2 separate regions of the Homo sapiens genome follow, and region 2 is linked to region 1. Evidence: fine-mapped expression QTL. A gene starts in region 1. The other region holds a variant in brackets. All regions are shown on one strand. Distances are from middle to middle.

Evidence for each region. PIP is the estimated chance that this variant, and not a neighbour inherited with it, causes the effect.
Region 2: its variant is the best candidate, but not a certain one, in a credible set for the expression of SAYSD1 in whole blood (INTERVAL, PIP 0.89).

The regions. Positions count from the first base shown.
Region 1 is chr6:39,107,248-39,123,369 of GRCh38, reverse strand. SAYSD1 (SAYSVFN motif domain containing 1) reads left to right here and starts at 8,184. Exons shown (of 2, transcript NM_018322.3): 1 at 8,184-8,487. The coding sequence starts at 8,281. It also overlaps the pseudogene ANKRD18EP. RefSeq lists an enhancer at 8,301-8,590.
Region 2 is chr6:39,144,090-39,160,211 of GRCh38, reverse strand. No RefSeq gene overlaps it. Among named protein-coding and RNA genes, the nearest start is that of SAYSD1, 37 kb to the right of the region's middle. The variant T/G (reference allele first, on the strand shown) is at 9,137.

The DNA.
Region 1 (16,122 bases):
GGGCACTCTGGTCTGGGCAACAGAGCAAGACCCTGTCCCTAAAAAGAAAAAAAAAAGTGGGGGAAAAAAGCCATCATCATGTACAGCAACAGTGAGATTAAGGGGATATGGGTAGCCATACCGGTACCTTATGCTACTCATCATAGCTACAACTAAGACTTCTAGACTCAAATGCCCCAAAGTCTTCCATTCTTTCCTCCTAGTTTAGTCTACTTGGATTGAAATATGAAGCTCTCCAATTTCCCTCTACAGTACCCTGACAAGTAGACAGTCAGTCCCTGCTTGAATACTGCTAGTGTCAGGGAACTTATTGCCTCTGCAAGGCAGCACATTCTATTGCTGAAATAACTGAGATGCCAATTTTTTTTTTTTTTTTTTAAGATTCCACAGTTGTCATCTTGTAATTTCCAACTAAGTTCTACCCCTTGGAGTCCCACAGAATGATTCTCCTTCACCACAACAGCACTTTTGTGTATGTGTGTGTGCGTGCGCAACAAGGCTGTTTATTTCACCTGGATGCAGGCGGGCTGAGTCCGAAAAAGGAGTCAGCAAAGGGTGGTGGGATTATCATTTAGTTCTTGCAGGTTTGGGATAGGTGTACAAAGTACCTTCTTAAGAGTGGGGGGAGGGGAGGGGAGAATATTACAAAGTACCTTAAGGGCGGGGGAGAATATGTCTATCAGGGTGGGGCAGGAACAAATCACAATGGTGGAATGTTATCAGTTAAGGCTATTTTCACTTCTTTTGTGGATCTTCAGTTGCTTCGGGCCATCTGGATGTATACGTGCAGGTCATAGGGGATATGATGGCTTAGCTTGGGCTCAGAGGCCTGACATTCCTGTCTTCTTACATTAATAAGAAAAACAAAACAAAATGGTGGTGAAGTGTTGAGGTGGTGAAAATTTTGGGGGGATAATGGGCGATGTTTCTCAGGGCTGCTTCAAGCGGGATTAGGGGCGGCATGGGAACCTAGAGTGGGAGAGATTAAACTGAAGCAAGATTTTGGGGTAAGGGGTGATATTGTGGGGTTGTTAGAAGGAGCATTTGTTATATAGAATTATTGGTGATGGCCTGTATGCGGTTTTGTATGAATTGAGAAACTAAGCGGAAGACACAAGGTCCGAATAAGAGAAGGAGAAAAACAGGTATTAAAGGACTAAGAATTGGGAGGACCCAGGACATCCAATTAGAGAGTGCCCAAGGGGGTTCAGCATAATTATTTGCTTGGTTGGCTAGTTTTTGGGCTCTATCCTTGAGTTTTTTATGTTGTCATATACCAGGCCAGATTGATTTAGGTAAAAACAACACTCTTCATTTAAAAATATACAGAGTCTCCTTTTTTAGCAGTGAGTAAGTCGAGGCCTTGGCGATCCTGGAGGAAAGAGAAATGCAAAGCCAGCAATTGTTTGTTAAAAAAGGACTAGAAACGGCTAGGAAAGAGTGACTGAGATTGATAGTATGGTGGAGATAGCTGGGGAGAGGTAGAGGGTAGCATAAGAATGGGAACGAGAATAAGAGTATAAAACTAAGGAATAGGACTTTATCAGGGTGAAAGTATTGGAGGGTGCCCTGCCAGCAAAGATCATCTATCCACTCTAAGAGGGAGTTAAGAGTGGCAGTTTGGGGATAGCACCAGGAGATATCAGCTGTGATGGCTTGGAGAAACAGTGTAAACTGGCAGTGTAAACAAGAGCAGGGCATTTATAAGCAGTTGAGAATGGTGAATAGGAGTATGACTAGACAGAAGATAGTAGGGATGACAAGTTTTTGGGGCGCAGTCCAAGTAGTGGGGGTGACTGCGTAAAGCCCTGTTGCAAAAAGGAGGGTAAGGATGAATAGACTTAATAGAATGAAGGGATGTATTAGGCTCATGAGGGTTATTACGTTCTTCAGAAATTCGAGTGAGTTTAAGGGAAGTAGGGGAGAGTACCTGTGACTTCCAGGAGGAAGAGGAGAAATCAGGTTGGCTGTCCAATGGACACAGTTTTATTCTGGAACAGTGAACCCAATGGGGAGGGTCCTGCAGGCAGACTGCAATTGGGGTACTATGGATGACTAAGGAGGGTCTGGTCCATCGAGGTTGTAGAGTTTGAGGGGTCAGATTCTTAACAAGAACTGATCGTCCAGCTAGGGTGTCTTCATATGGCTGGGAATCTGGAGTAGGCAAGAGAAGATTAGCAGCCTGGCGAATTTCCTGTCTAGCCTGTTGGAAGACTGGAAGATAGTCGCCCAGAGGGCCACAACAGCACTTCTAACAGAGTTTCTAAAACAAACTGGTATGTTTTCACCGTGAATCTCCCTCTCTGGCCCAAATCACTCACTGCCTTTACCATTCTTACTACAATGTGGTCTTTAGACCAGTGGTTCTCAACCAGGGGCAAACTTGCCTCTTAGGAGGCATTTGGCATTATCTAGAGACATTTTTGGTTGTTACATCTAAGGGAGAAGCTACCGGCAACTAGTGGGTGGTGGCCAGGATGCTGCTAAGAATCCTACGAGACACAGGACAACCCCCACAACGATTTTCTGGCCCAAAACATCAAAAGTGCCAAGGCTGAGAAATCCTGCTCTAGACACATCATTATCCAGGCTACCCCCCTCTGCTTTATATGGTTTGTCATATAAAGCATAGTGCTCAGAACTTGGTATGTGGTACCTGCAAGGATAGGACCAAAGAGAGCATGAATACATGGGGGTATCAAGAATACATCCTTGGGCTGGGTGCAGTGGCTCATGCCTGTAATCCCAGCACTTTGGGAGGCTGAGGAAGGCAGATCACCTGAGGTGAGGAGTTCAAGACCAGCCTGGCCAACATGGCAAAACCCCATCTCTACAAAAAATATAAAAAATTAGCCAGGTGTGGCGGCTCGTGCCTGTAGTCCCAGCTACTTGGGAGGCTGAGACACGAGAATCGCTTGAACCCGAGAAGCGGAGGTTGCAGTGAGCTGAGATCGTGCCGCTGTACTCCAACCTGGGTGACAGAGTGAGACTGTCTCAAAAAAAAAAAAACTATATCCTCTCTCACTTTGAAAATGGGATTCATAGTAGCAGCTGAAACATTCCCCATATAACCCTCCTCCTACCCAGTCTGTGGTCAGGGAAAGGCTCCAAGTCCTATTGAAACAAATTGCTCCCAAGCCAATGATTAAGAAACAAAAACAATAATATAAAAACATAAATGCAAATCTAGAAGGAAGCACAGTTCCCTCTGAGCATCCCCACAATGCTTTAATCGTAATAAATTGAATCAAATTCATTTTGGTTTATTTTTTACCCTAAAGGCATAACTGCAGATCTTCTCTACCAAATTTTTGTCACCTGAATAAACGATAAATTCTCTCTCATATTTTCACCCAAGACACTCCTAAAAATATCAAACAGGACAGAGCAATGTTGATCCATTTCTTGACCCTTTTTGGGTAAGGGTGAATTGACCAGCTATGAATCCAGTTAATTGTAGATTACATTTATTTACCTGATACAAGGAAACACCAGGTCCAGATGGTTTTACTACTAAGTCCGACCAAAATATTAAAGAAACAGTTAATTCCTATTTTGTTCAAACTGTTCTAGAAAATTTGGGTGGGGGGTGTGGAAGATGGAGGCACACTTCAGCTTATTTCATAAGGCTAGCAAAATCTATCTAAAATTGAGGACAGCACATGAAAAGAAAATTATAGGAAAATCTCACTAATGAACAAAAGATGTAAAATTTCTAGAAAATTCTCAAACTGAATTTAGCTTTGAGTTTTATGTTTTATAAAGTGATTTGAGTTTTATTTATTCCATGAATGGAGGATGATTTAACAACAGAAAATCGATTACTATACCCCACCACACTAATAGATTAAAGGAGTGGGGAATCAAGAATGAGCATACAGGGACACAGGGAACTTAAAATGTTCTTCTTGGGTATTGGGTATGTATGTATTGGTTAGCATTTGCTGTGTAACATGCAACTGCAAAATTTCAGTTATGTAAAATAAGCATTTGTTTTCATACATTTTAGGGTAAGCTGGGGGTTAGCTATTTGAGGCTGTGCTCAGTTGGGCAGCTCAGCTTTAAACTGCAAGTCTCTGGGTCAGCCAGGTGACCACAACCTAGATGTCTTTCATTATTCTTGGATTAGCTGGCTAGCTGTTGCAAGTTCATCTCATGGAAATGTGGAATATTAAGAGAATTTATTTAACAGGACAAACACACTTCAAGTTCCTGCTCACGTAGTTTCTGCCATCATCCCATTTGGCCAAAGCAATCTGCATGGCTGAGTTTACAGTCAAGGAATGGGGAAGTCTACTCTGCCTTTTACGGCGTGGATACAGATAGGAATATAGAATCGGGCCAATGACTCAATTCTATAACAAGGCCTGTATTAGTGCATTCTTGCATTGCTATGAAGAAACACCTGAGACTGGGTAATTTATAAAGAGGTTTAATTGGTTCACAGTTCTGCAGGCTATATAGGAAGCATAGCTGGGGAGGCCTCAGGAAACTTATAATCATGGCAGAAGGTGAAGGGAAAGCATGCAGGTCTTACATGGCTGGAGCAGGAGGAAGAGAGAAGGGGCAGGAAAGTGCCACAATTTTTTTTTTTTCCAAGACAGGGTCTCGCTCTGTTGCCCGGGCTGGAGTGTAGTGGCACGATCTCACCTCACGGCAACCTCCACCTCCTGGGTTCACCCAATTCTCATGCCTCAGTCTCCCGAGTAGCTAGGATTACAGGCGTGTGCCACCATGCCCAGCTAATTTTTATGTTTTTAGTAGAGACAAGGTTTCACCATGTTGGCCAGGCTGGTCTCAAACCCCTTGTCTCAAGTGATCCACCTGCCTTGGCCTCCCAAAGTGCTGGGATTACAGGCGTGAGACACTGCACCCAGCCATGCCACACACTTTTACACAACCAGATCTAGTGAGAACTCTATCACAAGACAGCACTAGGAGGATGGTGCTAAACCATTAGAAAAAAACTCATGATCCAATCTCACCAGGCCGCACCTCCACACTGGGGATTACAATTTGACATGAAATTTGGGCAGGGACACAGATCCAAACCATATCATGTGGGTATTTTATTTATAACTTATATGTATGACACATACACATTATATATGTTATGTATATGGCATATACATTATATATATGTAAAATGTGGCATTTACAAAATATTTCATAATAAAAATTAATGAAATTCACACATTAAGCACATTTTGGGGACCCTTCTTATTTACTAGTCTCATAATCCCGTCCAAAGAGGAAATAAAGTTGGCTTGGCAGGAGTTGTTCTTCATGATGGTCTCTTTCATCTTTTCTTTTTTCTATTCTTTTAACCTCTTCCAAAAAGGATTTAAAGAGGCTTACAAAGCACCAAGTAAAAGTAAATTCATAATAAATAAAACAAAGCAAAAAGAAAATAAGGTTTCCAAAGCAAGACAGAGCAGGAACCACATTAGCTCTGGCCTGGATGTTCTGTTTGCCTCTTCTGATCCTCTTTCCACCCTTCTCTACCTGTTCTATGCTCCCTGAAGGGCTCCTGTGTCTCCTTGCTTCTCCTATAGCTACAGGGCTCACTGGGTTCTGATAACTGCTCTGTCCTCCTGATGCTTTGGGCCTAGAGACAGGTAGCACTTCCTGTGAACCATCCCTTGCTGGCTTCCTTCATCCTGCCACACCTTTGTAACTTACTCCTTCACTAAGCCCTTCTTACTTCACCCTTTGGAAGGTGCCACGTTTCCTGTCAGGGACCCTGACTGCAACCGCCCACAAATTGTATGCCTTAATTCTATACACCTGCAAGATGCGGGCCTAAGGTCTTAGAGTCATTATCAAGTGGGAGACAAAATCGGTTAAAGAATCCCATCTCTCAAGAGAAGCAGACATACTCCTGACACCAAAATGGGCAAGAAATTTCCTCTTGTGGTTTCTCAAAGAGAGGACATTGTGGTGTAATAATCCCATTCTTTTCTCTTACAAACCATCTCTAATCCACTCAGGGCTCAGCCCTCAAATCTCTTCTTATCCACACTCACTGTTTGATCTTATCTAGTCTTACAGCTTTAAATATACACATGCTGATGACTCCCAGTGTGTGCCTCCGGTCCTGACTTTCCCCTCAAATCATTTTCACTATCTAACTGCCTATTTTTTGGATATCCAATAGGCATCCCAAGTTCTTTGTATGTCCAAAACAAAACTTCCAGTGTTTATTCTGTAATTCTCTCCTCCCAGTGTGCCCTCATTTCAATAGAGGGCCCCAGCATCATTTGCCTGGTTGCTCAGGGCATGTGTGTATGTATATGGGGGGGCAGGAGGAGTGGGGTAGTAATGGAAGAAACCTGTCATCCTTTTTTTTTTTTTTTTTTTTTAATAGCGATGAGGTCTTGCTATGTTCCCCAGGCTGGTCTTGAACTCCTAGGTTCAAGCGATCCCCCTGCCTTGGCCTCCCAAAGTGCTGGGATTATAGGCGTGAGCCACGATGGCTGGCCCTGTCATCCTTGATACCTTTTTTCCTCACATTCCACATCCAATCCGTCTCACACCATGTTGGCTCAGGTCTTCAAAATACATTCAGAATCTGACCAATTCTCGTGACCTCCATCACTACCACTCTAGCTCAAACTACTACAGTTTCTCATTCTACCATATTTATTCCTAACTAGTTTCCCTTCTTCTATTCTTGCAATCTTCCAGGGTCCCACCTCCATCAGCCAGTGTAATCCTTTAAAAATATGTCATATCATATCATCTCCTGCTCAAAATCCACTAACTGCTTCCCACCACACTTAGTCTTCACCATGGCCTACAGGGCCTTACATGCACGATCTTGCCCCTGGCATCTTTATTTTCTGTCACTCTTTCCTCCCTCCCTCCCTCCCTCTCTCCCCCTCTCTCCCTCCTTCCCTCCTTCCCTCCCTCCCTCCCTGCCTCCCTCTCCCTCCTTCCAATCCAGTCATAACAGCCTCCCTGATGTTCTGTGAACAAGTCAAGCGTGCTATTTGAGGCCTCGGGACCTTTGCACTTGTTCCTCTGACTGAAACACTCCTGTTCAGATATCTACATACCTCACTCATTTAAGTCTATGCCCAAATGACAAACCTTCAGGGAGGTCTTCTCTAATACCTCCACCATTGCCTACTTTGCTTCACTTTTCTTCACAGCACTTATCAGTACCTGATATGACATGAAATATGTAGATACACATTTGTTTATTGTCTGTATTTCCATTTGGAGTGTAAGCTCTAAGAAAACAGGTTTTTGTTTGTTTTTTCCTTTCATCCCAGCATCCCCAGTGCCTGTGACTTTAGACAGAGCAGGCCCTAGGTAAACGTCTGTTAAATGAATGGATGACTCTGTTCTAATTTGTCTAATTTCTCGAGTCACCCTCAGCCAGATCCAACAAATATTTGAGTCTTAATTATGTAAGTGACACTTAGCTAGATGCTTACAGCTTTAAGAACGTATAAAACAGCCCCTAACCTGAACTGTGTCCTTTTGGGAGGGTACTGATTGGGAGAGGGCACAAGGAAACTCCCAGAGTACAGAAATGTTCTTTCTCTCCATCTGGGTGGTAGTTACACAGGTGCATACATAAGAGCAAATCTACTGAGTCATATTCTTAAGATGTGTATTTTATGTTGCACCCCAATAAAAGTTTTTGTTGTTGGTTTTTTTAAGGTTCTGACGTATCTAGACACAAAACGAGATAATTTCCCAACGTGGCAAGACCAATGATGGAGCTGCACAGCCTGCTTTGTGAGCAGTGAGAAAGTCACCCTCCAGGTACTAAGATTGGCATACCCTTTCCTTGATAAGAGAAAAAGGGTAAGATGTAGCCTGTTATTCCTCTGACGCTGGAATGTCGTAGAGATCACGGGCCTCTCCTAACCCCTGGAACCATCTTCTCACTGTGGCGCTGTTCATTGGGGCCCAGCAACAGAGATCCCGAATACAGGACGCTGGATCAGTGGGGCCTCGAGCCCTTAAGTGAGATGCAGCAAGGCAGAGCGGCCTTTGGGAGAGGGCAATGGGGCAGCCCTGTGCTTTAGACTTGGCTTGAGGAGGTGACACTGTGTCCACGTGCCTGTGAAGAGAGAACGGCTGAGTATACACGCGACCCGCCAGACTTCACAAACGGAGGAGACGCGGGTCACACCAGTGCGCATGCTCAGCAGGGGCTTCTGCCACGCAGGCGCACGGCGGCCGGCGCGGGCCGAGCGGAGGCAACTGCTGTGCGGCCTGCGGGCGCGCGCTCCCTTATCGGCCAACGGACGCGAGGCGCGCGCCATGGAACAGCGGTTAGCTGAGTTTCGGGCGGCGCGGAAACGGGCGGGTCTGGCGGCCCAACCCCCTGCTGCCAGTCAGGGCGCACAAACCCCAGGAGAGAAGGCGGAAGCAGCAGCGACTCTAAAGGCAGCCCCAGGCTGGCTAAAGCGGTTCCTGGTATGGAAACCTAGGCCCGCGAGTGCCCGGGCCCAGCCCGGCCTAGTTCAGGTGAGACGATGGAAACTTCGGCCCTAGGACCTGGCCTCGGAGCCACAGTCGAGGGCGCGGCCCTAGCTGCCGGGGGTGTGGCCCTAGCTGCCGGAGGCGGGGCTACTGGCCCCCCATCCTGATCGAGGGCCGGACCGCTCATCTCCGGCCACACGTGTCAGCACTGTTACCAGTTTTGACATTTTCTTTCCAGCCCGCGACCCACGCAGGTCCTGATTCCAGCGAGAGTCGAGGGTCCTGGGAGAAAGCACCTCTGCTCTTAAATTATTCACTCCGAATTGAGTTATCGTGACGCCCTGTGGCATTGGGAAACCTCTCCACAACCAAGTTGAGCCACAGCCCTCTGCTAATGGAGGAGGGTAAAAGGTCTAATTGGATACCGATCACAAGTAGCAGTAATTAAAACTTCATTTGATTCGCACCTGGGGCACATGCAGCTAGTAGCCCAGATAGCCTGTGACTTAGAAATGCGTTTGAATACAGAATTTACCAAAGTGTGGTAGCTGTAACTGCCGGTAGTGGCAGAAGCTTATTCCAGTTCCATAGTGAATGTTCAAGACACAAACAAAAAAAAGTGATTTAGTATGATAACCTTTTCACATTTAATTGTTTTGGTAATCTCTTGTTTTGCAGATGAATTTAATTTGCATCCTTTTGTGTTTTCATTTAGTTTTAACTCAGTAAAATGGTAAGGTGGCTTGCAGTGAGGTTGAAATGTCTATGTGGAAATACAAGACAAAACATATCAAGGGATGAGTGCTTTGTAACAATTTGTGCCCAGTGCTTTGTTCCTCATAAGTGCAATAAGAACTAAAAAATTCCTTTTAAAATGAAAATATACTGGAAGAAAAGTGTACCTTGCTCACCTTAAAATTATTTCCTGTAAGTTCATCTATTATTGCACAACATTTGATTTGAGGGAATTTTTAAAAATTACTGAACCTATTACTCAATTTTGATTTGATATTCTCAGTGATATACAGGATTCCAGCTGACTTGCAGAAAGGTGAAAAGAGCGCAGCAGAGTTCAGACAATCCATTTCCTTGTGTGCAGTTTGTGTTAATTGTCTTTGGATAATTTTATTGTTGACTAGAACTTTCTAAGTACAACACTTGCTTAAGATTTTAGAAACCATTTCCCTTATTCTTTTTCTCTCTGCAGTTAAAAAACAATGTCTAACCCATGCAATGAACTTTTGACTGTATGTCTCATTTCCAAAGGAATGAGATCATTGAGGTGGACCCAGAGAAACTGAATTCAGAGAAAAACTTCCATTATTGAGAACCCAAACGCTGATTGCCAGACAAAAGGATGAGAGGAAATGCTGGACCTCCAGTTTCTTGTTAATTGCTCTGTTTTTCCATAAGGGACTCTGCCTTAAGCTCATTTTCATTGACTTATCATTTCTGGGTTTGCTCTGGTGTGAAAATTCTCATTTAATTTTTTTTCTTCAGATTCTGCCTCTAGTTTAGAAAAGAAAAAGTCTAATTTACAATTCATGTCAGACAATTTTGATGGCACACTGTGGCCTGTCAGAGATTTCTTTAGCATTCTATTTTTTTAAATTATTTTTAATTTTTGTTTTTTTAATTGAAACAGCTTTATTGAAATAAGGTTTACATACTACAGAATTTATCTCTTTTAACATACAGTTCAAAGATTTTTAGTAAATTTATTGAGTCATGCAACCATCACTGCAACTTTAGAACGTCTCTATCACTCCAAGAAGACCCCTCTTGCACATTAGCAGTTACTACCCATTTCCAACCCCAGCCCCGCACAAATGTCAGTCTGCTTTCTATCTATACATTTGTCTTTTCCGGATGTTTCATGTAAATGGAATTATACAGTATGGTAAACACATTTTTTGTCTATTAATTTTTATATTCAACTAGGTTCAACATGTAGCCGTAGCCAAATATTTTAAATTTTCCTTCTGGAAGTTTGAAAATATTTATCTTTTTTGATACTTACTTCTCCTTCTGCTTTCTCTTTTTCATACTGAAACAGTCTTTTAAATGATTGCATTCATTGATTAATTCCTTATTTTTCCCTTCTAGCAGAAGACCTTCCTTTTCACTCTCAAGACAGCATCCTTGGATATTAATTACCTTTTGTTCATTATCCCCTTTCTTATGAGCACCATCTAGTTGTTGAAGCAACAGATTTTCATGTTGTAGTTGAGATATTCTCTCCTCTACGTAGTCCCACTTTCCAAAGGATTTACTTGGCTTAGGTCCTTTTGTACACTTTATAAAACCAAAACCTTTTCTCTGAGAGAATTTCTTGTGTCATGGAGTTTACTTTTTAGGGTATTGAATTCGAGCTTCGGAAAGTTGCTCAGTTAAAAACTCATTATTATCTTTTAGTTCAGAAATATCAGAACTCATTTTCTTTCTTGTAAAGAAACGTCTTGTGCTCTCTGTAAAGCAAGTTCTAGGTCTCTTTTTGTTTTCACACTTTGATCACACTCACTTATAGCAGCAGCCAGTCTAGCATGGAATGACTCAACTTCAGCTTCCAGTCTTTCCTTGTTTTGATTTTCCTTCTCCAGTTTAGACTTGAGCATTGTATTCTCAGTTTTGAGGTCGTTAAGCTGTTGACCATACTGGGATACTGTTTTTGTTAATGTTTTTCCATTCAGTTTTATAGTCTCTTGAAGGTCATCATTCATTTCTTTAACAATTTCAATGTCCTTTTTCCCTTTCGAGGTTCCTATTTTTTATTGTGTATACTTACATACACAATAAAGGCAATATCTCTCTTCAACAAGCAATTTTCATGCATCAGATCTTTTTTTTTCTTAAAGTATTTCTTCAAGCCTTCAATTCTATTTCTAGTGATCCGATAGTCAGTTTAAGCTGTTCTTTTACTTCAACTTCTTTCCTATGTTGCTCCACTTTCCTTTCTAACTCTTCCCTAATTTTTTCATATAACATATTAGCATTTCTTCTCATCTTCTTCTAAGCTGCAAACTGTAGAGTTCCTGTTTCCATTCTACTTTTTGATATTGAACTGTGACTTCGTTTCTTGTGTTTTGGATAGCTCCTTCAGTACACTAAACTCAGTTTTCATATTTCTTATTGTCTAGTGTAAGTTGTTCACAGATAATTTTTTTTAAGGTCCAGTGACTTTTCACATGAAAGAAATGCATTCTGGACTTCCATTAGGATACGAGAATCATTACAATCCATTCCATATTGCTTAATGAGCATCATAAACTTCTTACAATGAGGGTAAGGTTTCTCATGATCCTCTGAAGCTGTTTCAGAGGGCCGAGTTAAGTCATCAGGTTCATCTCTAAATGAGTTTGCTTTTTGACCTTTTTCTTTTCATTTGACATTTTCTTTGCAGGCCTAGCATACTCTTTGTTCTCCTTCCTAGGAAATCGCTGATGGTAAGTTTTTCCACTCTTTCTTTGTTGAATTAATTTATCATCATCGTCAGCAGATGTACTATCATATACGTTTTTTTGATACTTTTTTTTTTTAACTTTCGTGCTTCTTTCTAGCTTCTTCAACCTGTGGCTGTTTATTTTCACTTTCAAGCTTTTCCTGTTCTTCCTCTGATGTCACTTGTACTTCTTGTTCTGCTTTGGATGTTTGTTCGTTCTTCCTTTCTATTGCTTTCTTCACAACAGAATCTTTCATTTCCATGGTAGGCTTTAGGGAAGGATGTTTTTCAGGAGGCCCTTCTCCCTTTCCATTTACTATATATTTTTTCCTTTTTTATATGAAGGTCCAAGTAAAGACTTTGAAACACTCTCAGGGATACACTGCTTGGTAGTAAAAGTCAAGTCTTCATCATCTGGTTTAGGCCATGAGTCAACACACAGTTTTTTTTTAAATACTGAATGCAGATGCTTCAGAACTCCCAGAATCTTTTGCACTTGCTCCTCCTGTTTTCAAACTTGCATTCTTCTTGGATGCTTCTTCTGGGTTGTCATTTTGAAGACCATTTTCAAGTATCTTTTTTTTTTAATGTTGCAAAATTTGTTGTGAGTGCTTGTCAGACCACCAGAAATAGCATAATCTGCAGTCTGTTCATACATACTCTTGAGTAAAGACAATATTTTGTTGAAGAAGAATGCTAACTATACCTGACAAGCCATAATGTACAACAGGCATGAGAGCTGTTCTTTTCAACCTATCAACAGCATGTACATTTGCTTGTTTCTTCACTAAAATTCCACCTTTTGCTGTGTTTTGCAAACTATAGCAAGTAAAAGTGGTGTGTTTGCATCCTTGTTCAGCACTTCAGTATCCTTGTTCAGCACTTCAGTATTCACATGGTGTGAGGGCAGTTTTTCTGCCAGTAGTGTATTCTCATTATACACAGCATAGTGTAGTGCATTGTTGCTATAGACATCCATAAGATCTGGGTTGGTGCCACATTCTAGCAGAATGATGACACAAATCTCTTCTTGGCAATGTACAGCCTTCATCAAAGGCATCCTGTTTCATTTGTCACCAATGTCAGTCTGGCACTTTCAGTTCACCTGGAGAGTGACCACTTCCACATGGCCATTGGCACAGGCCAAATGTAAAGCAGTCGTGTTCATCCACAGATGAAGGAATACAGAAACTCCAGGATATTTGCACAATGGAATACTCTTCAGCCATCAAACTTTAGGACATCACCCCACTTCCAGCAACGTGGAGAGAGACCTGTTCATCCACAGATGAAGGGATACAGAAACTGTAGTATTCATTCACAATGGAATACCCTTCAGCTGTGCACATATACTGAAATCATATCACCTGGAGCCACACAGTTGAACCTGTTCATCCCTTGATGAAGGGATGACAAAACTGAAATATATATCCAGAATGGAATACCCTTCCACGACAGAAGTGGATGAAATCCTGTCATTTGCAGCCATGTGGAGAAACCTGTTCATCCGCAGATGAAGGGATAAAGAAACTGTAGTATATATACACAAATGGAATACTCTTCATCCAGAAAAATGTAATGAAATTACATCATTTGCAGCCACACTGTTGAACCTAGAGGACATCATGGTAAATGACCTGTCCTGTCCACCCACAGCTGAAGGGATAAAGAAACCACCATACAGATACACTATGGAATATGCTTCAGCCATAAAGCTTTGGGAAATCCTGTCATCCACAGCCATGTGGAGAAACCCAAGAAACCCAGAGGATATTAGGTCCAAGGAAATGAGCCTGGTAGAGGAAGTCCCACACCTTTTAATCTCAGGCATGGAGATTCCAAAAACTTTATCTCCTGTCCATCTACAGATGAAGGGATCAAGAAACTGTAATGTATATGCACAAAGAATACTCTTTGGCCATCAAAATAACTAAACCATGTCATTTGGAGCAACAAAGCCACTGCGGCCTCCATTTGGGCCAAGCTCTGACTGCAATGATGCCTCTGCCCCGACCCGGGCCTCGCTGTGACTGACAATGCCGCTGCATCTTTTCAGCAGTCATTGATGAGGAAGTATCTACATCCTCCTTCCCACTACCAGATTTTGCTTGGAGAAAAGCAGTTTCCTGAAATAATTCTGTGACGAGCTTCTTCCACATTAGGACAAAAATGCTGGTAACTTTTAAAAATTCCTACAGAAACCTCCTGCTTCCCTCTCCAGCCATATCCCAGGCAAGCCCCCAGCACACCACCCTGCCCCAGAACCCATTTCCCATACCCATCCACCACTCCTGACCTCCAGGCCTTGGCTCAGGCTGGCCTTCTGCTCAAAGGCTCTCCTTTGGAGTCGCCTGGCTAAGCACAGCTGTGCCTCACCCCCGCAAAATCTAGTAGTCATCTTGAATTTCTTCCTTTCCCTCACTATCATTCATTCATTCAACAAAAATCTTGTCATGTGCCCGCTGTGTTCCAGCTTTTGTTCTAAATCCTGGGAGACAGTGTAATTAAGACACACAAGTCCTACTCTTGTACAACTTGCATTTGAGCTTGGGGCAGCAGGGAAAGGAGGACAATAAACAAAACCAGATAAATGCTATGAAAGAAAAAAGATAAAACCAGTAGACTGTGATAGTGAATTAGGGGTGAGGGGAGCAGAGTACTATTTTAAATCAGCTGAGCAGGGAGAACTCACTAAGGAGGAGACATTTAACAAGAAGGAACCACCCTGGCAAAAACGGGGACTAAGCCAAGGGCACATACGGTGACATTTTTGCCGTTTGTAGTAGGAGGGGTCAACCAAGTGATATGAGGGGAAGGGAGCATTCCTCTCAGAGGGAACCACAAGTGCAGAGGCCCTAAGGTAAGAAGCAGCTTGATATTTGAGGAATGGCAGTGCCTTCCTTGGGCCATGCCTGTGTGTGATGTAACAGTCACAAACACTTCTTCACCCAGGTTTTACAGCAGAAGGGAACTGGTACTCCGACAAGTTCCAAATGAGGCAGAAGAATGTCCGTATCTCTCCTCTTGTTTGTTCCCTTCGTCAGTTTGTTTACCCCCCCACCCCCACACCCATCTACCTCTAGCTCCCTAACCTTTCTCCTGCCACCCCCCATAAAGGCCCCTAATTAAATAAAATATATTTTGGAGGAGACCATCCTAGGATCCGAGACTGACCTCATCTCTGCCTATCACTAGTTTTATGGCTTTAGGGAAATTACTTAACCTCTCAGTGTTTTCTTATCAGTAAGTTGGGAATAATAATGCCTGCTTCCTGGATTACCAGAGTTCATACATTGGAAGGCTCTCAGTAAATGGTGACATAGGAACATTCTTCTTTTTATACTCCCTAAATGATAAATTTAGTTTATTGTGAATCTCAGCATGTATATTCAGAATGTATTTTGTGTCCATCAGTCCACTATTTCCATCTGACTGCTGTCACCACCCTGGTCAATGTCTGGCTCTCTCTTGCTAGGCCTCCTCCCCAACCTTTTTAGCACCAGGGATTTCATGCTTTTGGTTAGTTCCCTGCTTAGACCTTCAGCTGTTTCCCATTTCCAGAATCTTCACTGCAACCTGCCTGGCCCTACTTTATCTGGCTCCCACCCTCATGCCCTCCCTCCTTAGCCCCGTCATCTCATGCTACTCTCCCCTTTGCCCAGAACACTGCCCAGATGCATTCTTCTTGGGCCAGAACGCATACTGTGCATGCATGTCAAATCTGAAACAGACATTTCTTTCTTTAATGAGTATCAGGGGTCAGGGATGTGGCTGATAATATAAGGGCCTCTCCAATCAGACTTTCTAATCTAACTGAAAAGATAATAATTACAATGTTGATGCTAAAAAAGAAGGTTCTGACAAAATAGAACTTCTGAAACATCATAAATCAGATGACCAGTATTTGTGATCCCCTTTTAAATATGCACGTGAAGAAGAATAGGGGATGTAACTGAAGAGATGAACTGAAAGTTCTGCTATGAATTGAGAACCTAAGTATGGGATGCCATGTTTGGATCTGGAGACACGTGGCTTCCTGGTACTTAAACAATCTGGCATCATACATGACATGACCTATAGTAAAAGAGAGACACTGTAGTGCTGAATAGTTTGGTGCTTAATGAACGGGAGAGCTAGTTCTGGGGGAGGCAGAGGGGGCACCCTCCCTGATGCCCAGGGAGGTCAGGGCTGACAGTTCATGAACGGTGCTTGCCTGGAAGGAAGGCAAAGAGTTAAGGAAG
Region 2 (16,122 bases), 37 kb before region 1:
AGGTATATCTCACACAGATTTTACAAAAGTGAAAGGAAAGGTATATAGGTACTCATTACCTGACTCTGAAAGAGAAAATGGTTGAAAGAGTTTGAGGAATGAAAATCGAGCCTCATGATGGCAAATTATTACTTGAGGAAGAAAAAAGAATGGAATGTGTCTTCTTTATCTTTCTATCCCCAATGCCCACATCAGCAATGTGCACTTCATAGGTGAGTATTTGGCTCTCTGTGTTTGTTCTTGAGTTATCAAAAAAAGTGGAGTGGAAAATTATTGGTTTAGTTTTGGAACCCACAAGTATGCACACAGAAGCTTGCCTAGAAGAGACGTATGACTGCAGCACTCCCACCTTGTGGTAGTATTCATGAATTACAGGCTAAACTTTCATGGAAACCTAACTTTTTTTTTTTTTTAAATGGAGTTTTGCTCTTGTTGCCCAGGCTGGAATGCAGTGGCGCGATCTTGGCTCACCACAACCTCCGCCTCCCGGTTTCAAGCGATTCTCCTGCCTCAGTCTCCCGAGTAGCTGGGATTACAGGCATGTGCCACCACGCCCGGCTAATTTTGTATTTTTAGTAGAGATGGGGTTTCTCTATGTTGGTCAGTCTGGTCTCAAACTCCCGACCTCAGGTGATCTGCCCACCTCGGCCTCCCAAAGTGCTGGGATTACAGGCATGCGCCACCACGCCCAGCTAATTTTGTATTTTTAGTAGAGATGGGGTTTCTCCATGTTGGTCAGGCTGGTCTCGAACTCCCGACCTCAGGTGATCCGCCCGCCTCGGCTTCCCAAAGTGCTGGGATGACAGGCGTGAGCCACCGCGCCCAGCCTAAGATGTAACTTCTTGAGTATTAAAGTATCTGTCCCTTACAAAGATTTTGCTAGCACTTCCCTGCCAGTTCCTCCTTCTCTCCGAGATCTCAGCTAGCAGGGCCCCCACTAATGCTTCTAAGTTATGTCATTTTCGAGATTCTCTTCTTAATGCATTGAGGTCTTCAAACCTATTTAAAATGCAAAATGATCATTTGGTGTTATCACTGAAGCCTCTAGGACCCTCTCCAAAATAGGTTTCATTCTGGGATCCAGAACAGGTGTTTTTAACTTGGGATCCACAGATGGGCTTCAGGGGGCGCATGAACCCTTTGAAATTGTGAAAGTGTATGAACATATGCATATGTCTTTTTTTTTTTATTTGAGGAGGGTATCTACATCATTTGCCCAGATTCTCGAAGGGGTCTGTGACTACAAAAAGATGACAAAATCCCTGTTCCAGGGTGACACATGCCAAAGCTGACTCTAAAAGGACAGGGACTTGTTGTTTAAATAAACAAGACAGAAAAATGTTGAAGATATTTTTGAACTTCTAAACATGATACGAGAATTTTTTTTTTCGGAGTCACTGTTGCCTAGGCTGGAGTGCAGTGGCGCGATCTCGGCTCACTGCAAGCTCCGCCTCCCGGGTTCACGCCGTTCTCCTGCCTCAGCCTCCCGAGTAGCTGGGTCTACAGGCGCCCGCCACCACGCCCTGCTAATTTTTTGTATTTTTAGTAGAGGCGGGATTTCACTGTGTTAGCCAGGATGGTCTCGATCTCCTGACCTCGTGATCCACCTGCCTTGGCCTCCCAAAGTGCTGGGATTATAGCCGTGAGCCACCGCGCCCAGCACATGATACAAGATTTTATCTCTCTTCCTTTCCTCTGCTTCCCTGCTCTTGACACCCTCATCTCCCCAAGACTCCTCCCTACCCCTGTCATGGGGGAGGGAATTCAAACTTCATTTGCAGATAAGTGACCATCTGTCCTTCCAAAGGTTTATGGAGAAAAGGAAGAATTGTATAGCCTCCTGGGAAGACAGATTAATCCAGATTAGCTCTAGGCAAAGGAATCAGCCTATTCAAGATAACACCATTTAAAAAAAAAAAAAAAAAACCCCTCCTTATTTGTCTCCAGATCAGGTGCCTGAGCTCTGCATGGGAAGCTGATGAATGATTTAGTTATGCTTTCCGTTTGGGGAAAGTGCCTGCTTTTATCTCTGTGATTGCTTCTTTATTTGGCAACCCACAAACTTATCTGTTTTCCCTAATATAATTGCCTGGTCCCTCTCCGCAGCTCTCAGTAATGTCAGCAGGGCTATCTTTCCGTTTTCCTCTGGAGTTCAATATTGTTTAAGCAAACTAATTGGACTCTATTTCATTTTGCTTTATTTTCCTGCACCAGACCTAGCAATTGGCTGTTTGGGTTTTGCTTGTTTTGTTCCTTCACAAAGTTTCACTGATGAAGTTCCCAAGGAAATTGGATATTGTTCTTTCTCCCCTTTTTCTTTTCTTTCCTTATGTAAGCATTTATCTTCCACCTGCAGTGGGCCAGGCATAGCTCTAGATGAGATGGAATTTAGAGAGGTAAATAAGGCTCAGGCCTGTCTTCAGGGACAAATTTTGTCCTTCCCTAGCCAGAGCCTCCAGTGACAACTGTGCAGGTTGTTACCGTACAAGGGACAGCAGGGGGCTGAGATCCAGCTGCCACTCTGCTTGCCACTTATGCACCCTGATGCAGGCCCACGTCCATGGAGAGGAAGTGGTGCCTTTTCCTACTTGCAAAAAGGCACCTTATGGGCTAGAAGCAGTTCTACCCCTAGTACATAGTCGTTATCTACTAGAATGAAGGAATGTTAATATCCTGGATATCCATTTAGGAGTCTAGCATTTTTAAGTGACGTCCTGAATTTGCAGGAGCTTCTCTGAACCTCAGTTTCCTAATCTGTGTAATGAGGGTGTTGGACTCAAAGATCTGTAGGGGCCCATTCACTTCAGATGCTCAAATACTATTATTCATCAAAGTTAACTGACGTGATTCCACCCATCTCTCTGTTTCGAGAAGATGAGGCATCAGGGTGAGTGGCAGGGTGAAGGTATTGTGGGAAAGAGATGCCACCTGGTGAGACCATTTCCAGCAAAACTACACTCATGACACATTTCTGCCTTCAACAAAGACCTTTTCCCTCCCACCCAAGAGTCAAGGTATTTACATGTCCCACTTCAGAGAGCAGCCATCCTATTATTATAGATGCAATCAATAGTCAGCGCCTGCAGCCAGCCGTGCATCTCAGGGAGGCATGGGCAGATCCCCCCACTGCCTAGACATGAAATATTATTATGGCCATAAAGACTAATGAACTTCTCCTTCCCAGCCCCTGACCCAACTGAGGGGTGGTGGATGTTTATGTAAGCAAAGCACCAGCAGCTCAAATGGGAGGCAGCAAACAATTATAAATATTGACCTTGGCCACATGGAGAGGGAATAAAGCCATAGTCAAGGTATTAAAACAGTACAGTGTGGGTGGAGTGCTGACGCTGGAAGAGGGTGATAGCTCTGCTGGGGAGTCATTCTGGGGACCCTGTGCTGGGTGCTTGAACAGTTAGGCCAGGGGTTTTTAGCTCCATGGGAACACCTTGCTTTTTTCAGCTTCATTTATTTTATCTTTTAAACCCAGCCCTCTGCCAAAGAGGACGTGCAATGGCTAGCAATTAAGACATGTCAAAGTGAACTTAAAATGAACCAGAGGCTGGGCACAGTGGCTCATACCTGTAATCCTAGCACTTTGGGAGGCCAAGAGGGGAGGATCATTTGAGCCCAGAAGTTCAAGACCAGCCTGGGCAACATAGTGAGACCCCATCTCTACAAAAATAAAAATAAAAAATTAGACAGGCATGGTGGCACGTGCCTGTAATCCCAGCTACTCAGGAGGTTGAGGCAGGAGAATTGCTTGAACCTGGAAGGTTGAGGCTGCAGTGAGCCGTGATCTCACCACTGCACTCCAGCTTGAGCAACAAAGTGAGATCCTGTGTAAAAAAAATAAAACAAACAAAAAATGAACTGGAAAGTTGTAAAGCCTCATTGTAGGCATCATCGTTCATTTATTTTTTTTTTCATTTGTTAATCTACTTGCTGAAATAACAATTTGTGACTTCACACCCAACGCTGTGCCTGGTACTCAATTTAATTCATATGGTCCTTGTTGCTTAGGAGTTTACAAGGTGGCCAAGGATAAAGATGTAGATTAAGAAACTGCAGAGAAACTAGAGATGCTGGTTTAGGGACTCAGGATGGGCTAAGAGTGAAAAGACCCAGGCTTTAGTCCCTACTGCTCTGCTTCTGACTTGTGTGACCTCAGAGCCTCAATTTCCTCCAATGTAAAATGGGTAATGGGACCAGGTCAGTGGTTTTTAATCTTTAGTGGGCATTAGAGTTCTCTAGGGAACTTGTTAAAGCTGCAGATGTCTGGGAGTCCCAGAGAGTCTGCTTTAAAATGTCTGTAGAGGAGGCTGGCGTCTGCACTTTAAAACTCTCCCCACCCCAACTCTGGTGGGGTTCTGATGCCAGAGTATCTGGACATACTTTGAAAAATTCAGGGGCCAAATACTCTAAATAAAGGTTATTCTCTGGAAAAAAAAAAAAAAAAGTTCGCGGTAGGCAGAGGGTAACAGAATGGGAAAATGAAAGGGTCAAGGAAGTACAGAGAAGGATGGTTTCAGTGTGTGGGGTGGGCCAGGATCTGGGGCTCCTTAGAGGAGCTGAGGCCCCAGCTACCCCTTGCAAGATGTACAAGGCTTGGTTGTTGCCGTGGTTTGGCTTTCTTCAATTCTCTGAGTAGGGTAGCTGTGCTTTCTAGCTGTCGGTACCATTCCGGGAATAAGTACACAGGGAGCTGTTGACAAACGTTTTGGGATTGCTATTTGTATTCATCAATGAAGTCATTTTCTACTGTGAGAATGGGAACAATTTGTGTGTATGTGTGTGTGTTTGAATTTAGGAAAGAAAAATTATTCAAACATATTATATTTTTCCTAACACGTAAAAACATGTATCAAGACCAGGAATGGTGGCTTACACCCGTAATCCCAACACTTTGGGAGGCCAAGGTGGGCGGATCACTTGAGGTCAGGAGTTTGAGACCAGCCTGGTCAAAGTGGTAAAACCCCGTCTCTACAAAAAATACAAAAATTAGCCAGGTGTGGTGGCATCCACCTGTAGTCCCAGCTCCTTGGGGGTTGCTGAGGCAGGAGGATCACTTGAGCCCAGGAGGTCGAGGCTGCAGTGAGCCATGTTTGCACCACTTCACTCCAGTCTGGGCAAGAAATGAGACCCTGTCTCAAAAAATAAAAATAAAATAAAAAAATAAAGACGTATCAATGACCCAAACTACAGGAACTAAAACTAGAACAGGTATGTAGCAGGATAAAGCTTCAGAGGTGATCTTCATGTTAATAAATACAAATGTTTTCCCTTCTACAAAATTCAGAGTCGACTTGCTTGGTCAGCAAAAAAAAAAAAAAAAAAAAAAAAAAAGAACATTTAAAAATAGTAAGCACAAGTCTAATATTCAAGGTAAAGGCATATTTCATTTTGAAGCATATGAAAAGTTTTAAAAATTCTATTCAGGGACTCAGGGTAAAAGTCCGAGAGAAGCCCCTGAAATGTCCTGTATACGACATTGAGAACAAATGCATGTAGGAGGCAGTGCAGACACTGAAATGTGAAGGCCTCTCCTTGGATGGCCATGGGGTTGGGAGGAGTCAGTGGGAACCAGAAGGAATACATCATTTTAGGCCAAGAAACTATGGATCTAGAAAGTGGATGTCCATGAAATACTTGAAGGACCCTTATTCCTGATGAAAGTCTAGGGAATCTTCTCTTGGTCAGGAAGAACAGGCCCAGGAGGACTCTGGGAGGAAAAAGTATGGAGGTGCCTAAGGTTAGGTTAGGAGGTGGTACATTCACCCAGGACAATGGCATCCTCTCTTTGGTGAGATCATGCTGGTACTCCTTGGACAATATCAATTATGTCATCCATCGTGGAATGTGAGAGGCTTCCAGAGCCAGGTAGAGGCTGACTGACAGTTGCAAATTCCCTTCTAGATCCCACTCTTAGAGAGAAAAGGATTCGCCCAGATAGCCCATGATGACTTGTGGGATGGAGCCAGGGCTGGCCTTCTGGGTATGCGGTGTGTGCAGTGGCACATGGCCCTGTGCTCAGGCCTCATGCTTGGTCTAATGCTCTGCTGTTGCCTTCTTGAAACTCTTCATACTTTTCTCTTTGAATTTGTGTTTTGGTTTTCTGAGCACAGAATTCTGGTGGGCCTTCTATGCGTGGGAGTTAAGTGAGACAAGGCACAAAGCAAGAGCAACGTAAGTGTGTTATGTGTATTGAGTGAGTAAGCTGAGACCACACTTTCCCTTTGAACCAGAACTTGCTTTAAATGCAGAAAGAAGGCAACGGTGTTCTAAGAAACATGAAGGACCAAGGAACTCTGTCACATCCTCATTCACATCCTGTTCACTCATGCCACCTCCCTGTATTTGCCAGCCATAGACACTGACAATTATGACACAGAAGGAGAGGGAAAGACAGGACAGCACATGGTTCCTTTTACCCTCAGTCCTTCCTCACTCCTCAGTCATCTGAAGAGAGAGCATGCTGGTGGAACGTAGGTATATTGGAAGTGAAATAAAAAGAGTTTAGTTAGTTCTGTGCAACATTTCCATTTTTCTGATAAGAACAAAATAATATATACATATATAAGCTAAAAAAATGAGAATTGTATCATTTCAGTGATTCTGCATATGAGAGAAATGCTGTTATATTTGCATTTAAAATTGCCATTGGTGGGCTGGGTATGGTGGTTCAGGTCTGTAATCCCCTTGGGAGGCCAAGGCAGGATGATCACTTGAGGCCAGGAGTTCAAAATCAGCCCGGGAAACATAGCGAGACCACGTCTCTACAAAAAAAAAAAATAAAAAAAAAAAAAAATAAGTCAGGCATGGTGGCATGCACCTATAGTCCCAGCTACTCAGGGGACTAAAGCAGGAGGATTGCTTGAGCCCAGGAATTTGAGGCTGCAGTGAGCTATGATTGCACCTCTGCATTCCAGCCTGGGGAACAGCAAGACTCTGTCTCTAAATACATAAGTAAAACTGCCATTAGATAATGTAAAGATGAACGGTATAATTACAATTTTTAATTTTTCTTTACTGAGATTTACCTTAAGTGGCAAGTAAAAAATACCATGCCAAGTTGACAGAAAGCACCAAACCTCAGAAGAAAGGAAAGAGCTATATATTTTAGTACCTTCAGGGGCATTTTTTCCTGCTCTTTTTTTTTTTTTTGAGACACAGTCTCACTTTGTCTCCCAGGCTGGACTGCAGTGGAACAATCTTGGCTCACTGCAGCCTTGACCTCCCAGGTTCAAGTGATCCTCCTGCCTCAGTCCCCTAGGTAGCTGGGACTACAAGTGTGTGCCACCATGCCCAGCTAATTTTTTTTTTTTTTTTTTTGTATTTTAGGTAGTGGCTGGGTTTTTCCATGTTGCCCAGGCTTTGCTTTTCGATCAAGAGACACACATTTTTATTTTGTACTGGACCCAGCAACTCATGTAGCAGACCCTGGGGAGAGGACACCTCCAGTTCTGGCAGGTGGGCCAAAAGATCAGCTTTGGCACAGGAGAGCTCTCTATAATAGGATTTGGTAATCGTGTCTTCCTGGAGTTATAGCCACTGGTGTTTGAAGCATTGGTGTCTTGGTTTTCCTTGTATTAATTTCTGTCCGGGTCTGGCAGTTTGCCTCTTCTTTCCAACTAAAGCTCTTTCTGCAGCACCAGCGGTATGCCTGCTGTCACGGACTTTCCGACCATTAAGAGCAATCTAGGTCTTATTAGATCTCATCCCCCACCCACCCTGTAATTCATCCTCCAGTTCTTAAATTACTTGCTGATGAGCTTTCACTTCCTCTGCTGCTGAGAGCTCTTGCTCTCCCTCTTCCTATCCATTCTCCTGCGGAGCCATGCCTCTCTGCCTGTCCAGGGCATTTAGAACTTGTGCTTCAGCTACAAGGCTGTGCATCCATTTTTCAGGTGAGCTTTGATGAAATGCTGTGTCCAAGGTCCATGTCCAACTTCTCTGTGCTTCCTGCTTTTGCCTAGCTGACACGTCATCACACAGTCGGAATTGGAAATGGACTCCACTGTTTCCAACTGATCTTAATTTTGTTGAAGCGGTAGCTACTGTCTGTCTTTTCTGACTTTTTGTCTTCTCACCCTGATCATCAGGTGTTTCAGCAGCTCAGTGTAATTATTCAAAATGGGAGTTTCATCCTCTTTGTGCAATAGAGCTGCTTCTAGGACTTTCTGAGATTTCAAATACAATGTAATTCATTTCCTGAGCTCAGTATTTCATTCATTACAACCTTGTCCTTCCCAAATAATAATTGTTCCATGCCGACTTAAGTCTGGAATTTTTTCTTCTTGAACTTAGTAGTGTCAAGACATTGTCTCTTCACTTTGCTTAGATAATCTTTATTAGGGAGCTCCCCTGTCTGGAAGTTTTAAAATAAAATTACCTGTAAAAATGTGTAACCTGGCCGGACACGGTGGCTCACACCTGTTATCTCAACACTTTGGGAGTCTGAGGTGGGCGGATCATGAGGTCAGGAATTTGAGACCAGCCTGACCAACATGGTGAAACCCCATCTCTACTAAAAATACAAAAATCAGCCAGGCTTGGTGGCAGGTGCCTGTAATCCCAGCTACTCAGGAGGCTGAAGCAGGAGAATTGCTTGAACCTGGGAGGCAGAGAGCAGTGAGCCCAGATCATGCCATTGCACTCCAGCCTGGGTGACAGAGCGAAACTCCATCTCAAAAGAAAAACAGAAAAAGGATGTGTAACCTTTCCATAGAGTTTCAGCTTTCCAGTCTTCTTGATATTCTGTTCCCCAAACTGTAAGCACATCTTTCTGTGCGTTTGAATTGTTTCTTCGAGTCAACTGATTGTATCTTTAAGCCCAGATACTTCCTCAGGAAGATGTTTATTTTAGGTCTTGATTTCTCTAAAAGATATCTTTGCTGCTTTGATATTCTGTTCTGAATTGAATAACTTTTTATTTTGGAAACTCACACCTACAGAAAAAGTTGAAAGATTAGTATAATGAATACCCCATATACTCCTCACCAATATTCACTCATTATTTCCATTTCACTGTATTTTATTTTTCCTTAGGTATGACATACACTTTTTTGCTGACAAATTTGGAAGCAAAGCGTACATTTTGTGGAACTCCACCCCTATATATTTCAACATAAATCTTCTA[T/G]AAATATAAGGATGCTTTCCTACACAACCATAATACCATGCTCATACCTCAGAAAATTAACAATAATTCCAAAATCTAAAATACAAGCCCTATTAAAATGTTCTTATTTGTCCCCAAAATTAATCTGATAACTTTTAAATGATTTATTTTAATTCTGCCAAGATCATTTTAAATTTCTGTGCAATCCATTGTTCAATCACTTGACATTTCCACTCATTATAGAAAAAGTCTTCCCCTGAAGAAAATGGCAAGTGTCCCACTCCCAAGAAGGGTAAACATTCCATATTCCCAGGGCATCTTATAAAAATCTAGCCCGACCTTACCTTCTCAGGCAGACTGGACAGCAGTATCGTGGTATATCAATTTAGAAATTCTTAATCTCCACTGCTGTCAGACGTGGTTGCTTTTCTGCATTTATTTCTTGGCTGTATTCTGAAACACTGGTGTTTCCTAGCTCCTGTACCATTAAGTTACCAGACTCTTTCAAAACATTTAAATCCTCTTCAGGCATTTCCATTCTGACAATGGACAGTCAATTTCTTTACTGGGCAATGTTCCTTGTGTAATTCGTTATTATCTTCTGTTTTGAGCATCATTAGTGTTGAAGTTGGTCCTCTAATAGTTTCTCCAGGAAGGGTTTATAAGAACAATCTTTCCTAATTTCTTGCATACACAAAAATGTTTGATTTTACATTTTTAAAAAATAAAAAGCCAGGTGTAAAAATTTTAGATCACACTTGCTTTCTTTGGGGAGCTTTTAGGATTAGTTCCACTGTCTTCTGGGGTTGCATGCTAATTTGGAGAAGCCTAAAGTTAACAAATCACTTCTCTTAGCCTTTTTGCCTGGCTGACCCAAAGACTCTTTATCTCTGAAGTACAGTAATTTTGCTAGGATATGTCTCAGTGATGAGGACTTTTGTTCATTTCTTCTGGAATCTGTTGTTCCTTTTCAATAGCTAGATTAATGTTCTCCTTGGTTTCTGAAACATTTTGATAAATTGTATCCTTAAATATTTGTTCTGTTACATGATTTCTGTTTTTTTCTTCAGAGCCACCACTTATTGGTTTATTGTGTTTCATTGGCTTTTCTTGTCCTGCTCTTCATTGTTTCTTGTGTATTTTTCATTGAGGTGTAATTACATACAAAAACTGCACATGTTTACGTGTACAGTTTGATAGATCAGTTTCAACATATGCATGTACCCATGAAACCATTGCCCCAATCAAATTGTGAGCATATTCATCACCCCAAAAAGTTTCCATGTACCCTTTATAATGTCTCCCTGTATCCCTTCCTACCCTTTTTTCCATTCCCATACATCACTGGTTTGTTTTCTTTCACTTTAGTTGGCATTTTTCTAAAATTTTCTACAAATGGCACCATACAATACATACTGTCTGTTTGGTCTGGCTTTTTTACCCAGTATAATTTTTTATGAGATTCATCCATGTTGTTGCATGTATCAGTAGAAGTGGTGAGAGCAGACCTCCTTGCCTTGTACCTGATCTTAGGTGAGAACTTTTCCTCTAATCCTTCAGATAGTTCTTGTTCCACCTGGCCTCAGGTAATTGCCTCACGTGCATTCACTGATCAGTACATAGCAGAAGACTCAAGCCAGCCCTCTATAGATCTCTGGAGGGAGCACTCTCTCTCTGTCTCTCACTCTCTCTCTCTCTCTCTCTCTCTCTGTGTGTGTGTGTGTGTGTGTGTGTGTGTGTGAGAGAGAGAGAGAGAAACAGAGAGACAGAGACAGGGAGAGACAGACAGAGAGACAGACAGAGACAGAGAAGCTCTCTTCTCTCTGTTATTATTTTCTGAAAACTCTAACCCTCTTAGCCTTTCAGGTCTTCCAGCTGAACTAAGAGACCACCATGCTATATCCAGGTTTTCCCCTCTCTGGGCCATGACTTAAAAACTCTCTCTGAGCAGTAACCTGGAGCAATTGTAGGGCTCATGTTGTTTATTTCCCATCTCTCAGAGATCACTGAATGTCACTGTATGATATCCAATATTTTAAACATCATTGCTTCTAATTATTTTATTTGCTTTTTTAGTTAATTTTGTTTTTTCAGGCAGAGGGTAAATCCAGTCCCTGTTAGTCCATCTTGTTTAGAAGCAGAAATCACCTTTATAGACTTTTGATGAATAAACTTTAAATGAAGAGTGTTTTTCCTTGATTAAATACTTGCAGGTGTTCATGCAGGAAGTCAGGTTCCAAGCCAGCAGGAACTTTCCTTATAACCCAGGGATGTCAGTAGGAGTCTTTACTTCTCTTCACATCATTCATACAGACAGCCAATGGCCTGGTACTAAAGAAAGCTTCTTTGCTCCCCCTCCTACACTGATTATTTCCTGCAGACCTGGCTTGCCTGTGTCATTCTTCATGCCACCCCTTCTTTCTTCCCCAGGACCAAACTGGATGCAGGGAACCTCCAATTCCTGTCTGAGCACCCAATTCTCACTCTTATAAACAAAAGATTTGTGTTTTAAAACTTCAGGTGTAGGCAGGCGTGGTGGCTCACACCTGTAATCGCAGCATTTTGGGAGGCTGAGGCAGGCAGATCACGTGAGGTCAGGAGTTTGAGATCAGCTTGGCCAACATGGCAAAACCCCGTCTCTACTAAAAATACAAAAATTAGCTGGGAGTGATGGCGCATGGCTGTGACCCCAGCTAGTCAGAGGCTGAGGCAGGAGAATTGCTTCAACCTGGGAGGCAGAGGTTGCAGTGAGTCGAGATCATGCCACTGCACTCCAGCCTGGGCAACACAGTAAGACTCCATCTCAAAAAACAAACAAACAAACAAACAACAACAAAAGAACTTCAGGTGTGCCATAACACCTGGGATAGGTGCGCTTTGCCAGCTCCCTGAGATCTGCAACCTCTGCACTCTCTCTTCTCTTCCCTCCCTGGCTCTTCCTCTGTTTCTACATCTTTTGACATTCTTCCTCCTATTTAGGGCTTCAGCTTTCTTACAGTTTTATAAAGATAGAATTTGAATTTCTGTTTCTTGTTCTGCTTGTTGCTTTTAGGTTTCCTGAGTTTCCAGGAAACATCTTTGTTGCTTTTAGGTGATTTCCAAGAAAATATTAACTTGAGGCCATCATCTGCAAACTGGAAGTCAGGAGCAATACAATTGCTATTGTTGCTCTGAATGTATTTTTTACATCTGTATTAAGCCTGACACAGTCTCTGACCCCTCAGAGGTGCTCAATTAATGTTTGAAGAATGACTTTTGAACAAATTCAGCAATCCCCTCGTAACCTGGGTTTACAATAGTTAGGTGGACCATTGCTTTCTTTTCACCTGGGATGTCCCCAAATACATGGTCCACCTTTCCTGCACTGAGTGTGGAGCTCCCCAAGCACTGAAAGAGCTGTTGAAAGTCTAGGAAGATGAGACTGTCTGAAGTCTCTCTTCTAGGAGTATGGGCTTTTGAGTTGGACAAGCCTGAATTTGAAATTCACCTATACCATTTACTACTTCTTGTTGGACTTCATATTAGGACTCTCCAGAGAAACAGAACCAACAGGAGATATACATATATATGAGACAGAGAGAGAGAGGGAGAGAGTGCACTCTTTTAAGGAATTGGCCCACATAATTTTGGGGGCTGGTAAGTTCAAAACCTGCTGGGCGAGGCCAGTGGTTCACACTCGTAATCCCAGCACTTTGAGAGGCTGAGGCAGGAGAATTGCCTGAGCCCAAGAGTTCGAGACCAGCCTGGGCAACATGGCAAGACCCCATCTCTAAACAAAAACAAAAACAAAAATCTGCTGGATAGGCCAACAGGTCCCAGCAGTTTATGCTGCAATCTTGAGTTCGAAGGCGGTCTGGAGATTGAATTCCTTTTCACTCAGGGGATGTCTTCAAAAGTTTTCATGTGATTGGATTAGGCCCACTCACTATGGAGAGTAATCAGCTTTACTCAAAATCTATTGATTTAAATGTTAATCATATCTAAAAAATACCTTCATAGCAACATCTAGACTGGTGTCTGACCAAATGACTGGCCACTATCACCTAGTTGACACACAAAATTCACCATCACAGGCTTTGAGTCATTTATTCAGTGTCACTGAACCTCAGTTTTCTCATCTGTAAGAGTGGGTTATTATTATACCTTCCTCAGAGGGCTGCGGTGAAAATCAAATTGGATAAATATGTAAACCATCTAACACAGCATCTGGCAAATTGAAGGCAATAAATTCAAGCTACTCTTGTTTTGTCTAGAAGAGATGCCTAAGACAGTCTTCTGGAATCCAGCCCATGCCCTTCCATGTACCCCCATCCCCTGTCTTACAAGGGCTGGAAGGTTCTAAATTACTTTTTTAGACTCCCTTGGAGCTAGAGAGATTTAGGCTGAGATACATTCAGGCAATTTTAGAAGGAAGAAGTTAACAAGAAGGGGCAGATGTGGTTGCAGTAGCCAGACACCAAGTTCCAGTTGTTGGTCACCAGCTTCATGGGCTCACAACAACCATGGTGACAGCAGCAGGGGCAGCAACAGCAGTTCCTGACCTCTGACCTGCAGCTGTGGAAATGTGATCTTGAACCATTAGCCTCGGGGTGGCCCCTGACATCTGATTGCTTGGATTAAGTCTGACTGGGGCTTGACAGAGTGGTTTCTGCTTTGTGCCCTGACTCCTACTTCTACAAAAGACCTCACTAAAAAGTGGCTTCATGATGCTCTCCTCTCTGCATTTACCCAGTAGGTTCAGGAAGGTTCCCTGGATCCTCCTTATCAGGCCCATCAGAGAGAGACAAGGCCCTGTGATTAGAGCTGTCGTGATGACCTAAGAAGCAGAGAAAGAATCAGCAATAGCCAGCCTGGCACAGAACATTGCATTAACTGCATTGGTGCTCTTGCATTGATTTAAAATCTTATCATAGAACAGAGTCCCACTAACCAGAATCTTCCATGAATATGATGTCCTGCCTCTGGATGTTGTTGAGCTCGGGGCTGGGTGTCTGTCTCTCACCAGCCAGAGGGCCCAGCCAGATTTTATTGCATTGCGATATTTATAGCTGTAAACACTTGGGTGCCTTTAAAGGAATGTCTCATTTTAAAAACCCCACGTTTCTCAAATTAGGACACAAACCATAAACTTTTCATCATAGGCTAGCAAAAAGTAGCTTCTTGACCTCCTCTGATCCACTCCCCACTGTAGTCCAGTTTCAGGATGGGGATAAGAAAAAGTGATTTATAAAACTGCCCCCAGCACTGGTAGATGAGAACCACAGACACAAGGTTATTGGGCTGGTGGGTGCTGACTTCATAATGAACCCAAAGTTGAGCCCAAAGTTGAAGGTTAAGAAAACAGAGACAGATGGACCAGGAAACATGAAGACGGACAGGATATGACTGCTGCAGGCAGGGAGGGAAACACATCCTTAGCGTTTTAATAACAACCTCATCAAGTGCCTGCTGCGGATGTTTCACATGTGATCTTATTTAATCCTCACAACAACCCTATAAACTAGGATTATTAATACCATTTTACTAACGACAAAACTGAGGTTTGGAGAGATTAAGAGACTTCCTCCGGGATCCTGGCACAAGCATGGATCCCCCGGGATCCATGAGGTGAATCTAGAGAGTGTGAGTGCAGAGCCTGGCTTGGAACACGCTGTTGATTCTGGGCATGTTCAAAGGTGTTACACCAAAGAAGCAGATAAAAACCAGTTTGGAAAATAACAAGTTTTGGAAATTCTGGGTTAATCAAAGTGAAACAGGTTGGATGTTTTGTGTGCTTGTTTTCTGCTGCAGAACTTCTCAGAGCCTTTAATGATGCTACCGTGCTTTGTGAGTCTTCAAAAAGAGGAGCAATTATGCAGTTCTTCTTGAATACCTTTGAGCGCTGAACACATTTCTCATAGGGCATCTTCAGGGCTTAGTATCCCTCAAAGCACATTTTGGGAAATCCCACTTAGCTGAACTCAGGCCAAACTGTGGTTCATCAGTGTGGCTTGACCTAAGTGGGGGTGAGTATGTGACTGAGATATGTTTGCTTCTGTCTACTGTCCTGCACTATCATTGTAGAGGAGAGCATGGTTGCCTGTCTGAATTCTGGGCCACTAGTGACTCCAGTCCAACATCTCCAGGAAATGTGAAGTGGGTGAGAAAACTGGCAGTGGTGGAAGAGAAGGAGCCAGGAGGCAGAGAGACTGATGGAGAGACAGGGCCTTTGAGAGATGTCCAGGGACAAAGAAGAGTCTTTTCTTTTCACACAGGGTTTATGAAATTGTAATTTCCTGAAACAGTATTCTACATTCAATCTCAGAATATCAAATATCAAGCAACTGAAATGGAGAGAAACATGTGTCCAGCAGTGGGTAGTTTTCAGTGCAGTTAAGAATAAACATGGACAGTGAGTAGCCCACACACTGAGAAGGGAGGTCTCAATGAGAGGGGTTATCATTAGGTGAGTTATGCCAGAGTGCTCATAATTTGTGTTTATTTTTATTTCCTATCCTTCTGATAAAGACAGCTGTTATTTCTACACTGCTTCAGACAGGGCTGGCTACATAATTTGTGGGGCCCAGTGCAAAATGAAAATGCAGCGCTCCTCATTCAAAAAGCAGAACAAAAGTGCTGTTACATATACAAAAACAAAGAGCTTTCTCCTTTCTTCTGCAATCCCTCAACTTGTGGTGCTTTTTATTTGCTATTTAAAGTACAAAGAGGGAGCCAGGCATGGTGGTCCACACCTGTAGTCCCAGATACTCGGGAGGCTGAGGAAGAAGGACTGCTTGAGCCCAGGCATTCAAGAGCAGTCTGGGTAACTTAGTGAGACCCCATTTTAAGTAAAGACTAAGTGATATGGTTTGACTGTCTCTCCACCCAAATCTCATCTTGAATTGTAGCCCCCATAATTCCCACATGTTGTTGGCAGGGTGGGTGGGAGGTAACTGAATCATGGAGGAGGTTCCCCCATACTCTTCTTGTGGTAATGAATGCGTCTCACGAGATCTGATGGTTTCATA